Linked DNA regions of Homo sapiens: region 2 is linked to region 1. Evidence: fine-mapped expression QTL. Tissue or cell type: whole blood. Region 1 holds a variant in brackets; the other region holds the start of a gene. All regions are shown on one strand. Distances are between the middles of the regions.

Region 1 (2,757 bases):
TATAAATCCTCAATAAGGTAGGAAGAATTTACATAAAACAGGCCAGGTGTGGTGGCTCACGCCTGTAATCCCAGCACTTTGGGAGGCCGAGGCGGGGGGATCATGAGGTCAGGACTTCAAGACCAGCCTGGCCAAGATGGTGAAACCCCATTTCTACAAAAAAAATAAATAAATAAATACAAAAATTAGCCAGTCATGGTGGTGGGTGCTTGTCATCCCAGCTACTCGGGAGGCTGAGGTAGAGAATTGCTTGAACCCAAGAGGCGGAGGATGCAATGAGCCGTGATTGTGCCACTGTATTACAGCTTGGGTGACAGAGCGAGAATCCATCTGAAAGAAAAAAAAAAGGATTTATATAAAACATTATTCTCTGAGTAGATCTTGTTGAGAATATGGGGATGGAGTAACCTGGAGGGAACAGGAAGAAGAGGCTGAGTATTCCCTCCCAGAAAATATTCTTACCTTCATGACTTTACCAAAGATACCTTTGCCCTTGGGGGCTTCTGACAGATGAGTATACTGATAGATGTTGCTTGCCCACCCAGGAGCCCGACCTGCCCCTGACCTCTGCTTCGAGAAGGTGAATGTGGCAGGAGACACCTTTGGAAACTGTGGAAAGGACATGAATGGTGAACACAGGAAGTGCAACATGAGGTGATGACCAAAGGGCAGGCCTCATGAAATGAGGATGAACAAGCAGTTTCTGCTCTGTCCTCACTGTTGCCCAACTCAGCAGTGTGACTGGCCCCAGAGCTGCACCTTTACGTCAATCAGTTGAAGTCAGTCATCTATTCTCGGCCCCCTGTTTGACAATGCACTTTTCAGCTCTGAGGAAGTCAGAGGAGGGTGTGGGTGGCAGTGCTTCCTAGAAAGCTGATCGGGCTTCCTTTGGGGACCATCTTACAGTAGGGCAGGGAATCAGCCCTTTTGGGTCATTTCTGCCAAATTCTAATCATGCCCTAATTTGAATAGCTCCTCATTCATTAATTCACTCATTCATTCATTTATTCATCATTCATTCCAACCAACCATCCACTCATCTGTCTACCCATCCATCCATCCATCCATCCATCCATCTATCCATCCATCTACCACCCACTCACCCACTGATCCATCC[A/G]TCTATCCATCCTCCACCACCCACTCACCCACTCATCCATCCATCCATCCATCCATCTGTCCGTCCATCTATCCATCTACTATCTATTGAAGATTTACTGTCTATCTACTATCTATTGAAGATTTACCATGTGCAAGATATTGTGCTGAGTGCATGGAACTTCTAATTAACAATATAGTATGACAATGGCAATGTGGAGAGAGCCATCCAACCCATCTTAGTGTGTCAGAGTGGTTTCCCAAAGGAAGTTATACCTACACTGAGATCTGGAGCAGTTACCTCGGTGAACAGGGTGGAAGGTGGTGCTGGTGCATAGGAGAGTAATCCAGGAAGAGAGATGAATAGAGAAAAACTGGTGGTTGAAAGAACTGAGAACAGTTTGATACAGTTAAAGTATAATGTTGGGGTGCAAAGGAGAAGGTCTGCTGAGAAATTAGCCTGGATAGTTTAGCATGGACCAGATCATGAAAAGCCTCAAATGCATGGCTAGGGGAGTTTAGATTTTAGCTTGAGAGCAGTGTGAAAATTAGACTCCTATGAGGCAGACTGGAGGCAGGGAAATCAATCTTCTGCAGACCAGGTAAGGGGGGTGGGGCAGTGTGAATTAAGGTAGATAGATAATAAGATAGATAATTAAGGAGGGAAGATTGATAGGGTTTGAAAATGGCTTGAGCCCAGGAGTGAGGGAGAATGGGGAGTTGGAGATGACCCCAGATTTCTAGCTGGAACTCCTGGGTGGACAGCGGTATAAGGGGCAAAAAGGGAAAGATTGCTCAGCTCAGGTGGCTATTCTTGGAGTTAAGGACTTTTCGAGGCCAGTTCTCTGGTCTAGATTTGCTCAGGGTCAAGGAGCCTGTTCTCTTCCCTTGGTGTCAGTCCACATGGAATCTCTCCTGGTGGGTTCCAAAGCACATGACTGCCCTAAACCTTTGCCCCACCCCACGCAAGCCTGCTGTCTTGATCAAGAAAGACTGAAGCTCTCTGGTGCCCCAGCTCTTCCTCTGCCTCTGATTCCGCTTCCTTCCCTCTCTGTCTCTTGTGCCCAGAGATGCGAAGTGTGGGAAGATCCAGTGTCAGAGCTCTGAGGCCCGGCCCCTGGAGTCCAACGCGGTGCCCATTGACACCACTATCATCATGAATGGGAGGCAGATCCAGTGCCGGGGCACCCACGTCTACCGAGGTCCTGAGGAGGAGGGTGACATGCTGGACCCAGGGCTGGTGATGACTGGAACCAAGTGTGGCTACAACCATGTGAGTCCCCTCCCCTGCTCACCTAGGAGCCAGCTGCAGAGCAGAGTGATTGAGAAGTGAGGTCTGAGGGAAGGATGCCTGGGCTCAGATGCCACCTCGCCAACCTCTGAGCCTTGGTGGCTCCCTTCATGAAGCGTGTATAGTGACAGCAGGCACCCACCCCAGAGAACTGTCGGAAGGATTAAAGAAAATCATCCCAGTAAAGCACTTAGGTGGCCTAGCTAGTGCCACTTTCATCCTCATCGCTAATTATCATAGGAATTAAAAATGGACTAGGAGTTAGGGAAGCCTGAGCAAAATAATAGCACAGACTCTATCCTCCAGAGTCGATTCTGATAATGAAACTATGGAAAACATGAAGCATTTAGCATAGCACCTGGCACAGAGTA
Region 2 (2,500 bases), 82 kb before region 1:
ACAGCAGCTGGAGACTAACGGAGTCCCAAACGACATTAATGGCCAGAACCACTTATTTGATTTCCCTCATGGGTGCCCATGAGTAGGGTTTGATAGACCTACCTACCCATCATCTTCAGGAGTGCCTCGCCCTCTCCAACACTTAGCACTTCTCTAGTCAACCTGGGTTTGACTAAAGAGGCTCAGAAAAAGGAACAGATGGACGAGGTTTGAGGCTGGGATTCTACAACGAGGCTTTGCTAAAACTTGCTGAGGGATCTTAGGCAAGTCATTTCTCTCTCATTATCAGTTTCTCCACCTGGAAAATAAGGTGTGTTGCATCAGGCTCTGGAGTTATACGGATGTGGGTTTGAATCTAGGCACTGACATTAGCTGTGTAATCTTGGGCAAGTGGTTTAGCCTCTCAGGTTTGATTTCCTCATTTCTAAAACAGGGATAGTACTAGTACCTACCCCATGGGATTACTGGGCTAATGAAAAGAGATAATGTATGCAGAGTCCCTGGCTCATAAAAGTTATTTTCTCCGATTAATTAAATAAGTGAATATGTGTAAAGTGCTGAAGACAGCGTTTGACACTTAGCGTTTTATCAGTCTTAGCTATCATGATTTTCTTATTCTAGTACATAGAAAGTCCTCAATAAGTAACAGTAGTTATTATTATTTTTGGTCACATGTCCCTGTGTTTCCCTCCAAAACCCTAACCATCCCCAATTCTGGTTTTCTCCCCGCATGCAGCCCAAGGGTTTTCACGTCCCAGTGCGATTGTCTGGGCTGTTTCCTCCGCCTGATGTTCCATTTCTCCTCCTCCCGATCTCAGATGGCTTCTCCTCTGGGATTCCTCTGGTCTTCATCACTCCCTCCTCCCAGGCAGAAGGAATGGCTCCTGGATTTGTGTCCTGCTTAAAAAAAAAAAAAAAAAAAAAAAAAAAAAAAAAAAAAGAAGTCCATATAGCACTTAGTTCTTTGTGCCTGGCGGTTGGGTTAACTCTTTCTGAGCCTGTCTCCGAGAGTGGCGGCCCCCGGGGGACGGCGCTGGGTGAATCACCTCTGAGTGTCACCCAAGGCGTCTGGCACAGTGCGGGACAGTAAACGGGCCGCTGTGCGGAGAGGGGTCCAGTTTAACTCCTAGAAGCCCGAGTCCCCGACCCTCTACAGGCCGCGTCCACCACAAATCCCTCCTCCTGGGGGGCTCGGATTCTCCCTTCCCCGCGGTCTCCCTCACCTGAGCCAGCCCCGCTCCCCCGAGTCTCGCCAGCTCCTCCCCGGCCCCTCCCTCCAGCCCCCTCCGGGCTGGAGCCTCCCCTCCTCCATCCCCTGGCGGAGGCCCGCGGGGCTGGAGGCGGAGCGTCTCGGCAGAGGGCTGGGAGCCGGGTGGGGAGGCGCGGGGCGAGCCGGGGGGTTCCAGACGCGCCTCCACCGCCGGGCAGTGGGCAGGTATGGCTGAGGGCGTGTGAGCGCCGAGCGCTAAGGGCCGCCGCCACCATGCCAGGGGGCGCAGGCGCCGCCCGGCTCTGCTTGCTGGCGTTTGCCCTGCAGCCCCTCCGGCCGCGGGCGGCGCGGGAGCCTGGATGGACAAGTAAGTGGCCAGGCGCGGGGGGATGGAGGCTGGGTGGCCCGGAGACCTGGGAGTAGCCTTGCGGGTCCGGAGCGCTGGGACCGCGACCCCTGCGCCTCCCGCAACTCCGCGGGGCCTGCGCCCCCGCCGTCCCCAGCCTGGGAGCCCGGGCTTTGTTCCCACGTTCTGCGCCCTGGGAGGTGGCAGAGGTCGGGGAAACCCGGCGCAGCCAGAAAACAGCCGGTCCGCTCACTGGCTAGCCTTCCCTTCTCGCCTTCTCCTTCCTCTGTTTTTCTGCTTTTGGCTTCTCTTTCCGCCGTTCTCGGGGCTTATCCTCCTCCGTTTTCTCACGGTCCCTCGTGTCCGCTCCGCCTCTCTCTCTGTCTTTCTCTCTACCGCCCGCTGCACTCGCCAACGCCGAGCATCCCGAGCGCCCTGCCCGTGTGGCCTGGGAGCGGCTTCCTGGGACCAGGCTCGGTGCCTGCCACACTGGTGGGGTAGGACATAAAATGCCCGCGGCAGACTGTGGTAGCCTTGGCTAGGGGATGGCTCGCTGGGTATCTGCAGCCACACACTTCGGATCCCCGAGCTGGCAGGAGCCCTACTGAAGGCCAAGTCAAACGCACCCATTTCACAGATGGGGAAACCGAGGCCCACAAAAGGGAAAGGACTTGCCCAAGGCCACGCCACGGGTTGAGGTCCGCGGTGGCACTGGAAACCAGGGCTCTCTTTCCACGCCAACCCGACGGCCGCCTTCTTTGGTCCTCAGTTTCCCCTTCTGTGAAGCGAAGGGGTCTGACTCGATGTTTCCAGCTAAGATGCCGGGTGATGTCCGTGTTTCTCAGGACTAGTTTCCCAGACACCAATCCCCTCCCCGGCTCCATCCCTCGGGGGCTATAAGCAGATTTCGCGGAAGGCTTGGTCCCGGGGGGCGGTGCCCGGGT

What was found. PIP is the estimated chance that this variant, and not a neighbour inherited with it, causes the effect.
Region 2: it holds the start of ADAM19, and the variant in region 1 is fine-mapped to the expression of ADAM19 in whole blood (INTERVAL, PIP above 0.99).

Annotation. Positions count from the first base shown.
Region 1 is chr5:157,492,584-157,495,340 of GRCh38, reverse strand. It overlaps ADAM19 (ADAM metallopeptidase domain 19), which reads left to right. Exons shown (of 23, transcript NM_033274.5): 15 at 546-654; 16 at 2,164-2,368. Among named protein-coding and RNA genes, the nearest start is that of NIPAL4, 34 kb to the right of the region's middle. The variant A/G (reference allele first, on the strand shown) is at 1,118.
Region 2 is chr5:157,574,680-157,577,179 of GRCh38, reverse strand. It overlaps ADAM19 (ADAM metallopeptidase domain 19), which reads left to right and starts at 1,405. Exons shown (of 23, transcript NM_033274.5): 1 at 1,405-1,577. The coding sequence starts at 1,484. It overlaps LOC124901121 (a long non-coding RNA gene), which reads right to left and starts at 2,201. Exons shown (of 2, transcript XR_007059018.1): 1 at 1,810-2,201; 2 at 570-900. RefSeq lists enhancers at 1-6, 1,864-1,943, 2,180-2,500 and a silencer at 1,254-1,693.